Homo sapiens: one gene and its partners. The protein of the gene in region 1 purifies or fractionates together with the protein of each later gene. This does not show direct contact. Each region holds a gene or a part of one and is shown on either strand. Other genes may lie near its edges. The genes, in order: CDKL5, SERPINB8 and GPALPP1.

Region 1 (3,751 bases):
CACTCATATGAGTACCAATATAATGAGAGTATGTTTTACCAGATTATCATTTAGAAACTGTTTTGACAGCAAGTTAGCTGAGCATTTAGCAGTGCCAGAATAATTTCATCAAGGCCAGTGCTTTGTTACAGAGTGAGTTGGTCTAAGAAACTTAATTGCTGTTGATAGGTTACTTGTTATTCGAAGGCACATGCTTGAGAGAATTAATGTTTTTAGTCTTCCAGGTGTTTTGAGTATTTGTTCTTTCTTTTTAACAATACTTTTTGTGTGTCAGCTATTGAGGGAAACTGATATACTTCTTTTGTTTTTAACATAGAAACCAAGCCGGCAAAAGTACTGCTTTGCAGTCTCACCACAGATCTAACAGCAAGGACATCCAGAACCTGAGTGTAGGCCTGCCCCGGGCTGACGAAGGTCTCCCTGCCAATGAAAGCTTCCTAAATGGAAACCTTGCTGGAGCTAGTCTTAGTCCACTGCACACCAAAACCTACCAAGCAAGCAGCCAGCCTGGGTCTACCAGCAAAGATCTCACCAACAACAACATACCACACCTTCTTAGCCCAAAAGAAGCCAAGTCAAAAACAGAGTTTGATTTTAATATTGACCCAAAGCCTTCAGAAGGCCCAGGGACAAAGTACCTCAAGTCAAACAGCAGATCTCAGCAGAACCGCCACTCATTCATGGAAAGCTCTCAAAGCAAAGCTGGGACACTGCAGCCCAATGAAAAGCAGAGTCGGCATAGCTATATTGACACAATTCCCCAGTCCTCTAGGAGTCCCTCCTACAGGACCAAGGCCAAAAGCCATGGGGCACTGAGTGACTCCAAGTCTGTGAGCAACCTTTCTGAAGCCAGGGCCCAAATTGCGGAGCCCAGTACCAGTAGGTACTTCCCATCTAGCTGCTTAGACTTGAATTCTCCCACCAGCCCAACCCCCACCAGACACAGTGACACGAGAACTTTGCTCAGCCCTTCTGGAAGAAATAACCGAAATGAGGGAACGCTGGACTCACGTCGAACCACAACCAGACATTCTAAGACGATGGAGGAATTGAAGCTGCCGGAGCACATGGACAGTAGCCATTCCCATTCACTGTCTGCACCTCACGAATCTTTTTCTTATGGACTGGGCTACACCAGCCCCTTTTCTTCCCAGCAACGTCCTCATAGGCATTCTATGTATGTGACCCGTGACAAAGTGAGAGCCAAGGGCTTGGATGGAAGCTTGAGCATAGGGCAAGGGATGGCAGCTAGAGCCAACAGCCTGCAACTCTTGTCACCCCAGGTACAGTTGAGCACCTTGACTGAATCTGGTGGCCCTTCAGGGGAAGGTGGTACGAGGGATGTGATGAGGGTCCATCTACTATTTTCCCTACTACAGGAGGTTGTGCTTTTCTTGATAGGATGCATTTAGGGAAGCAATACTTGGCCTAATCTCTGTTTTTTTGTTTTTTGTTTTTTAAATCTATTTAGATCAACCGTTGAGTACTCAAGAAAAGTCAAATTTTGTTTTTAGTGATCTTTTTTTTTTTCTTAAATGTTCTTTTCTGGAATATTTTGTTGAGAGAATCCTATTTTGATTTATTACAGAATTCATCAGCTGTATCAGTTAGGTTTTAGTTTTTCTTAAAATACAGTGTGAATTCATGGGTATTTTCTCTGATCTCTCCAAACCACATTTGCTTAAATCAAAAGCTTTTGCTAGTACCTTACTCAATATTTTAACTGAATTTAAAAGTTTTAAATTTGTCCAGAACTACAGATAAATTTAACTTCATACCAGGATAAATGTTAGTTTTCAGTCTTTTGGATTGTTTTTAAATCTTAAAACAGCATTTTTAGCATAATGCTTCCTCCATCTTATTCATCGTCAAACTCTAGAACTGACCTAACCTGCTTAAAAGAAGTAGCATTCCTTCACTTGAACCTGGGAGGCAGAGGCTGCAGTGAGCCAAGATCACACCACTGCACTCCAGCCTGGGCAATAGAACGAGACTCTGTCTCAAAAACAAAAACAGAAACAAAAACAAAAAAAACAAGAAGTAGCATTCTTACAGTAGAGCATGTTTTAAAAATAATGTTATCATGATTTCATCTATAAAGTACTGTGCCCAGTGCCTGGCACAAAGTAAGTGTCTAACAAATTTTAGTTATTCTTGCTGCTTCTGTGATTGTGGAGGCTGATATTTGGACATTGAACACCTTTTCTATGCTGGGTGTTCCCAGGCACTCAAAAGAGTCTGAGAGAGCTCTTGCACTTGAGAAACTTACCTGCTCTTGGGGAAGATAAACTGATACATGATAACAATGAAATAAGTAGCCAGGTGCAGTGGCTCACGCCTGTAATCCCAGCACTTTGGGAGGCCGAGGCAGGCAGATCACGAGGTCAGGAGATCGAGACTATCCTGGCCAACATGGTGAAACCCCGTCTCTACTAAAATACAAAAATTGGCTGGGCGTGGTGGCGTGTGCCTGTAATTCCAGCTACTCAGGAGGCCGAGGCACTAGAATCGCTTGAACCCAGGAGGTGGAGGTTGCAGTGAGCCGAGATCGTGCCACTGCACTTCAGCCTGGTGACAGAGCAAGACTGTCACACACACACACACACACACACACACACACACACAAACACACAATGAAATAAGTAAGACCTAAGTCAATATGGCACTGGCTATAAATAGGAACTGAGAATAGAGAGAGGTCATTGTGAGCAGAAGCAGTTAGAAATGGCTTTACAGGCAACTGAAGGTCTTTCTCTGGGCTAGGATGTATAGACAAGCTTTGAATTGGCTGAAGAGTGAAGGTATGTTCAGGTACGTCCTGAGCTAGGCAACATGAAAAGCTCTAGCTAGAAAGATGAAAAGAATAGGTTCCCTGTCGTCTTAAGTGTGTGGGCTGGCAGGGGACACTTGTCAACAGATAAGTTGTTCCACTACTGTGAGGTTACATTCTGGCTACTGTGCTAGAGGCATGCCAGTGTGGCAAGGGAGCGAGACAGTCCAAGTTGTGAGTTGTGGGAGCTCCTAGAACAGGTGGCACCTGAGCAGAGACTTCCAGAAAGGTTGGGAAGAAAGTGACAGTGACCTCAGGAAAGAGGGAAGAAAAGAGCATTGGAAGGAGAAGGAAGGTAACAGATGTTACATAGCATGGTATGCTTTGGGCATTGCAACTTGTTCCACTTTGCTGGAGTGAAAAATGCAAAATTTGGAGTGGCTTTTGCAATAATTCAAGCACGAGGTGAAGAGAATATGTTTGGGATTAAGTCAGTGCCAGTGGGAAACGGAGTGGATCTTCTACTCCTCAGAAGTAGAAACAATAGGATTTGTGATTTGAAGGATTGAATATAGGAAAAAGGAAGACTTCATGGTTTCTTTTCTAGGACCTCCTTTTTGGAGTGAAAGAGAGTAGTTTTGAAGTCACCTAATTCAACCCCTTCATTTCACAGATGAGCATGTCGAAGCTCAGAGAAGTTGGGTGAGTTGCTCCAAGTTTACCCAACCAGCTCAGGATGGAGCTGGGATTATGAGGCAAGCTCCAGGTGCTGAGGCCAGCTGCTTGCCACTGGTGTCTTGCGGACATGTTGAATTTGAAGTGACCTTGGCCTCTAAGCAGAAGTGTGCTCTAAGAGGCTAAAAAGATGGTCTGGCACCCAGGTGAAAGGAGAAAGCAAGAGGTGCCCATTTGCAGAGGCTGGAAGTGGAGTCAGAGGAATGGTCAGAGGAGCCCTGAGGAGATGCTGTCGGGAGAAAGAAC
Region 2 (3,751 bases), on another chromosome or scaffold:
TTGTGTGGTGCCCCTGGGGTGGGTTTCTATGGTTTCCTGTGAGCCACGTGGTAGTGAGATAGGACGGACCCTTATGCCACATTTAGGAGTTTGAACTTGAGATTATGGTCTGGAAAGCCATGCATGGTTTTTAAACAAACGTCTCATATGAGTGCATTGGGGCTTTAGAAAGATAACCCGGCTCAGTATTTGGTATGAAAAGAGGCTGGGGAGCTGGCGCGTAGGCCACCACCATGGGCCAGGGACTGCTGAAAGCAGAGGGATTGTCTGCAATAGAGAAGTGGGGGCTGGAATTGCCAGGCAGTGACTGCTCACATAGGGACAGAGCACAGGAGGGCCCAGTCCCGAGGCGCCTAGCTGTTATAAATTCATACTCAGGGTGGGTCGTGAACCACTGGAATTTTAAATGAGGAGTCAGGCTGGAATGGGGAATATGACTTGTTCCATTTGAGATGCGTGGAACACACCATACCAGGTGAACCTGTAACAAAGACAGCCAAGGATGTTTGTAAACAGTTAGGGACGGGGATGAGTAGACTGTCTAGAGCCAGAGACCTGGAGCCATCAGCATCCCGATTCCGAGAGGTTCCATGAGAATGGATGAAACTACACAGAACATCTAGTGGAGGCACAAGGGAAGAAATCCACCTATTTCTGTGGAATTTCCAATATCTGGAGGTAGTAAAAGGAAGAGACAGAGGAGGGCGAGGGGAGAGCGCGCGCGCGAAACGGAGACTGAGACCCAGCCATCAGGGTGTGCTGGGAGAACTGGGGAGACGAGTCTGCCCCTGCGAGTGGACCCAGGGAAGAGGGCGCGGTCTACGCAGAGCCCGAGGCAGGGAAGCGGGAGGGGCCCGGAGAGCAGCCCTGGGTGAGGCCCTTTGGAATGGAGAGGTCTCAGGAGTGAAGCAGCAGCCAGAGGACTGAGAGTGTCTGGAAAGTGAGGAATTGGTTAAAGTAACGCCGGTGGCTGCAACAGAGAGGGGCGTAGGTGAAGAAGCACCCCCAACCCCATCCCATTTGAGAGGAAGCAGACAATGAAGAAGAGAATATGAAAGATACAGAAAGATGAAGGCAGGGGTGGAAAGAACGGAGGGGGGGGACAGGAAGGGAAGGAGAAGGTGCAACCAATAGGCTGTAAGCACAGGGGCAAGCTTGGGCGCCAGGGGAGCAGGGACTCGGCGCCTCCCCGATCTGCCCCAGGCGCCACGGAAATTCCAGGCCCCGCCACCCGCACTCCCGGAGCCTCCTCCGCAGCGGCGGCTCCTCCCACTCGCCCTCCCGGGGCTCCCGCCCAAGCTTCCGGCGCTTCCAAACTCACTGCTCGCGTCACCCCCCGCTCCCATCCGGCAGCAAATCACAGCGCAGCAAATCGCAAGCCTAGAAACAGACGCTCCCTCTCCAGGGGCAGCTTCCTATTCAGGGCGGGTCTGGGCGCACCTGTTCTCGGGACCCGGCCCTCGGCCTTCGCCGGGTCTCGCGGTGGGGCTTGGGACCCCGGCTGGTGCCAGGGCGACCCCCACAGCCCCGCGACTCTCTTTCCCGGCCGCCTCCCGCCGTCATTCTCCTAGTTCCTGCCCGCCTTTGCCTCGCTCTGATTCCTGCTCTGGCCTTCCTCCCTTCCCCTCTCTCACGCACTCCAGGGAAGAGGTGGCCTCCGCGGGAACCTGGGCACCTCCGTGCCTGCCCCGCCCGGTACCTGGCAGAGGCCCCCACCTCCTGCTGCTGCTGCTGCTGCCGCCGCCGCCGCCGCCGCTGCTGCTTTGACTATTCCTCCTTTGTAGATGCTTCACGTCCGCCTTGATTGAGGGCAAGGCTTCCGGCAGATGACTCAGAACCGTTCGATTGCTCTGGCTTGTGCAATCCCTGATTCTTTGGGCCTGTGTGGATGTCTGTGGGCACCGGAGAGAGGGCCAGTGCCTGGTCCTTGGAGGGTGGTTTTTATAAAAAGTGTACACATTGGCTATTGTCCTTTTTTCACCGTTGATTCACGTTTGACTCCACTGTAGTTAGACGTCCACCCAAACATTCTCTGAAATTGCTCCTGATAAGGATACTAATCATTTTCTAATTGCCTTGGCCAAAAAATACATCCCAGGTCTTATTTCATTTTGTTTGTTGGCGACATTTAGCCCTTTCTTCTTTGACCTTCCCAGGATTTCCAGAGCACCCTTCCCTTCTTTCCTGACTCCTTTGCTTGGTATCCTGATTCCTTTCCTACCATTCTAAGCCCTCTTCTTTTCATTATAATATGATCTTCTTGTATGACCTCCACTATATCCATAGGTTCATGTTTCAACTTTTAACTTATTTCTTCAAAATCTCTAACCTGTCTCGAGCCGTAGATGTTACCTGTGTACTACTGGACATCTCTCAGAAACCTGGGTGTGTCCCTCCGCAGTTCTTTTAACTAAATGATCAACAGTCCTGTTACTTCTATCACTTTTGTGTTCCTCCTGTCCATACTCTGTCACCTCTATCATGTCTCATGTCTCTCCTAAACAATTAATTTTCCTACCTACAGTTCTGATCCATGCCAACCTATTGCCTACTCTGAAGTTCAGGTAAACATTCCAATTCTAATTATTTTATACCTCAGTTTAAAATCCTTTATAACATCCTCTTATCCAAAAAGATAAATTAGAAACTATTGAGCAAGGAGTGTAAGCCTCTTCACGTCTTGATTTCTCCCTTCTTTTCTTTAGAGCCATAGCAAATTATTTACATTCCTTCATATCCTCTGTTCATATACATGGGGTTCCTGGCATGCAAGCTTGTCTTTCAAAATTCAGTTCAAATAATGTCTCCTGCAGGAAGCTCTCACAGAGCTCTCCAGTTTGGGAATTCTGCTTTTAAAGATGCACATTCCCACTCTGCACCCCAAACCAATTAAGTAAAGATCTCTTGGAGGAGGGAACCCAGCAGCAGTATTTTGTAAAACTCGCTCAGTGATTTCCCTGTGGAATCCTAAAAGTAACTGTTCCCAAGAACTCTCCTCAATAAGTCTTGGTGCAGGATTCACCCCCATCTTTTCTCCATGACTTTGAAACCCCTCTCTCTAGTGGCTACAGACTCACATTTGAACTGTGCCCAAACTTACCGGCTCTGCCAGTTGAAAATGCCAAGGTCACTTCCCCATTGTGCATCAATTTCTCCTTGTTGGTCAGAACTAGATCCAGACTTTGGGCCCCACTTTGTCCATCCACTCCTTTTCCTCTTTGACCAGCAAAACAGATTAAAAGATGAAAAATGCTTGTTTTCCTCCGTGAAACTTCCAGCAAATGCCTGGTGGTTTGAAGTCCTTTACAAAGGATATAATTTGGCCCCTGGGAGTTTGGTTGTAAACACAGATATCCCATGTAGGAAACACAGTGCGTGCAGGTGCAAAGAGGCACAAGATAGCACCATGAAAACCATGACGTATCCAGGCCTGCAGTGGTACAGATAGTGTGGATGAGGCACTGCAAGACAACGTCTGATGTGTCCACAGGGCCATGTCGTGAAGGCCATGTGGACGCTGTTGGTGGTGTTTCTTCGTTCCCTTGTGGACTATGGGGAAACACAAAAGGATTTTAAGCTGGGGAGAAACATAATCATATTTGTATTTACGAAGGTCCCTCTGGCTGCAACATGGAGTATATTGTAGGAGGGTACCATTGCCTGCAGTGAGGCGTTAAGGACGCAGCATGGATGAGAGATGAGGAAAGCTGAAATGAAACAGAGGCAGGAGAAATGGAGAGGAGGACATGGC
Region 3 (3,751 bases), on another chromosome or scaffold:
GAGAAAGGAAAATCTCTACCAGTTTCCTACAGACCTTTTGTGTTTATTTCACAAAAATTGTGTCATGTCCATGCCTAAACCAGTCAGCTGAGCAAGAAGAATAAGACCAAAGTGACTACTTTGTAATATTTTGTAAACATGTCCATACAATAGTTACTACTTTTTTTTAGTGACTGGACTAGAATTACCAATATTTTTCCCCAGGTGTTAGAGAAGGCCCCAGTTCCCTAAGAAGGGTGTGGCTTTAAAGAGGATAAAGAAAATGCAGGCTTCTCTTGGCAATAGAGTAGTTATTGGTAGAAGCTGTTATAATTTCCATGCCAAAGACAGGAAAATCAGGGCTTAGAAAGGTTAAATAACATGCCTGAAGTCACAGGGCTAGTACAATGGCAAATGAGGCCTTCAACAAAGTCAGCCCAAAGTATAAACTGGTAAGGTACCTAATTTCTATTGTAATTCTGGATAAAATGTGCACCATTTTTTTTATTAAAAGAAATAACTCATCCAGGACACCAAAATAATTTAATACCCATAGATAGGAATTGGGCATATTCTGTTTCTGATTTTCAGTTTAGTGTGTTTGGCCTAATTTTCTGTTTGCTTCTCCATCCCTGCTTTTGTTTGCCCCTGAACGTAAGTGATACTTATTTCTAAAAATTGCAGGCATCATCCTACCAGGACATGCTGAAATTCTACCTTTATTAAACCATCTCTTATTAAGATGGAAGTGAGACGATCATTAGCTTATTCCACTAATACTGTATTGGTACCATGACTCTTAGAGTTTGTGTTTTGTTTTGTTTTCATGTCTCATAGTTTTAAAATTTCATTATAGCTTTTACATCTGAACATTTTGCATCACCAAATATTTATATCTGTAGGGGGTTATAAATATGTTTAATATAATGTCTGTAACATCAGAAAGCTTACTATTGTAGATATAAGCTAGAAACACTTAATGCTAAATCACTAACAGTTGAGATAAAATAATAGACAGGCCACTGTTGTATACATGGAAAAAATATACTGGCCTTGATCTTGGAATGTTTCATTCTTGGATAATAGTTTTATTACACTCTAAGCCTAAGTTTCCTCCAAAAAAAAAGAAACCAGAAATAGTGCCATTTTACAGTTTTGTTACAAGGATCAAATGAGGTATATGACAAAATCCATAGTTATTAAGAGTATGTTTGTGTGTGTGTGTGTATTAGAGTAAGCCACAAGACAGTATATAGTTGTCTAATTATTGTACTATGCTGAAAAGAGCTCTAAGTCTACATCTGTGTCCTTCAGGAAGAGAGTGAGGTCTGTCATGGACACAGGAAGAGAGGTGGGAGGTGGGAGAGAGTCTGCATGCCATGGATTTGTCATCTCTGTGCTAGGCACTTGAGGAAGGTGAGGAAAAAGTCCTCATGGTTCAGTGATGAGCCAGCAATACATTGTTTACTTTTTTATTTTTTATGGATAATAAGTTTCAGTTAAATGCAGGTAATTTAGAATTATTTTTTATAACCTGTAGCTCTGCTCTTGGTTTAAAGGTAATGTCTTGTTTTAAAAGGAAACAGACAGCAGTGAAGATGAGGATATTATTGGACCAATGCCTGCAAAAGGACCAGTTAACTATAATGTAACGACAGAGTTTGAAAAAAGGGCCCAGAGAATGAAAGAAAAACTGACCAAAGGAGATGATGTAAGTTTTAAAAACACTTTAAGAAATACACTAAATAGATTAAAAATCTAAATTTTAGAAATAAACACTAAACTATATAACTTTTAATATATTTTGTTTTTATGCATAACATTTTTTTAAATTTAGGAGTTAGAACCCAGAAACTCTAAAAGAAAAATAACAAATTGGATGAACGTCTTTGTAACTTATATGACAAATATATGTGACAAAAACATCGATCCTTTATATTAGAGTTTGTTAAGTAACTTTAAAACTTCAATTGCATGACACAGTTGCTTGTACATATATATGTACTCATCTTATACACGATATGTACTTTCTATGCTGTGTTTTTTTTTTCTCTTAAAGGATTCATCTAAACCCATTGTAAGAGAGTCATGGATGACTGAACTTCCTCCAGAAATGAAAGACTTTGGTCTTGGGCCAAGGACTTTTAAGAGAAGAGCTGATGACACATCTGGAGATCGATCAATCTGGACAGATACTCCAGCTGATAGGGAAAGGAAAGCTAAGGTGAGAGGTTTTGTTTGTTTGTTCATGTATTTCTGTTCATGTTGGCTGGATTTTGAAAAGATATAATGCAAAATTATTTAAGGGTACTATTTTTTAAAATTATGATTCCAAAAGGATAATGCGGATTTTCCTCTGGAGGAAGAGTATGAGGAAGGAAAGTGACACCAATTGCTTGCTGTTTACTTACTATTTCCCAATAAACGGTCTCATTTAAACCTCAAGAAAACTCTGAGACATAGGTATAATGGCCTTATTTTATAGATGGAGAAACTATCCTCTATGAGGTCAACGTTTCTAGGGTCACAAAGCTAGTAAGTGATGAAAAATAATTTCATTTTAGACCTTTCTAGCTCCAGATTCCCTGGTCTTTTTACACCATACTATCTTTATGAACATATATCTTTTAAAATATTTTAGAAAAAAAAAACAAAGCTGCAGATTAACCTAGCAAATTAAATGGTGCCTAGAGAATTTCTCTCAAAATGACCATATCTCAGGTGCACTAAGCTTCATGTTACTGTCAAGATAGACAAGAACCACTGTCATTAATACAGTAAGTTATCCAAAAAATACCAGCCGGCCGCAGTGGCTCATGCCTGTAATCCCAGCACTTTCCAAGGCCAAGGCAGGGCGGATCACCTGAAGTCAGGAGTTCGAGACCAGCCTGGCCAACATGGTGAAACCCTGTCTCTACTAAAAATAAAAAAATTAGCCAGGCGCGGTGGCATGTGCCTATAATCCCAGCTACTTGGAAAGCTGAGGCAGGAGAATCACTCAAACCCGGGAGGCAGAGGTTGCAGTGAGCCAAGATTGCGCCGCTGCACTCCAGCCTGGGCAACAGAGCGAGACTCCATCTCAAAAAAAAACAAAAAAACAAAAATCTGTATGCATAAAATACATTATTTTTAATCTTCTGTTCTTGAATCTTTTTCTGTTTATTACAAAATATTTCATTGTATATTAGGAATTAAACCAGTATCCCCAGTACTACTCCTTCAATTTAATCCATCTGTGGGTTTTGGTTTTTTCTTTTTGGTTTTTTTGTTTGGTTGTTTGTTTTTTAAGAGACAAGGTCTCTCTGTCACCCAGGTTGGACTGCAGTGGTGCAATCACAGCTCACTGCAGTCTCAAAGGATCAACCCTCTTGGGCTCAGGTGATCCTCCTGCCTCAGCCTCCTGAGGAGCTGAGACTACAGGCACACAACTAATTTTTTTTATTTTTTATTTTTGTAAAGACAAGGCCTTGCTATGTTGTTCAGGCTAGTCTCAAACTCCTGGGCTCAAGCAATCCTCCCAAAGTGCTGGGATTACAGGCGTGAGCCGCTGTGCGCAGCCTCTCTCTAAAGGTTTTAATTTCTGTAAGACATCCCATTCAATTCTCAAATGCTTGACTAATTGTCACCTTATGATTATAAATTCATCAGTTCTGACTAAAGCAGTTCCACACTTAGTTCATTCCACTAGCTCTGTTTGTATTACTCATCAGTACCTAGAATTGTCAGGATTTCTGTTTTCAATCTGTAATGATCAATTTTCCTGTTTTGTCAG

Evidence for each region.
Region 2: the proteins of CDKL5 (region 1) and SERPINB8 purify together in Homo sapiens (affinity purification with mass spectrometry; 3 studies listed by BioGRID and IntAct, with this or other methods). This does not show direct contact.
Region 3: the proteins of CDKL5 (region 1) and GPALPP1 purify together in Homo sapiens (affinity purification with mass spectrometry; 2 studies listed by BioGRID and IntAct, with this or other methods). This does not show direct contact.

Annotation. Positions count from the first base shown.
Region 1 is NC_000023.11:18,603,586-18,607,336, forward strand, and holds part of CDKL5 (cyclin-dependent kinase-like 5), read left to right. Parts: intron 1-316; coding exon 317-1,283; intron 1,284-3,751. UniProt on the Homo sapiens protein: Mediates phosphorylation of MECP2. May regulate ciliogenesis.
Region 2 is NC_000018.10:63,968,136-63,971,886, reverse strand, and holds the start of SERPINB8 (serpin B8), read right to left. Parts: upstream 1,807-3,751; 5' UTR 1,717-1,806; exon of another isoform or gene 1,383-1,716; intron 1-1,382. Other genes in the region: serpin-like protein HMSD, read right to left, coding at 3,236-3,549. UniProt on the Homo sapiens protein: Has an important role in epithelial desmosome-mediated cell-cell adhesion.
Region 3 is NC_000013.11:45,013,394-45,017,144, forward strand, and holds part of GPALPP1 (GPALPP motifs-containing protein 1), read left to right. Parts: intron 1-1,538; coding exon of another isoform or gene 1,539-1,558; coding exon 1,559-1,690; intron 1,691-2,038; coding exon 2,039-2,203; exon of another isoform or gene 2,204-2,204; intron 2,205-3,751.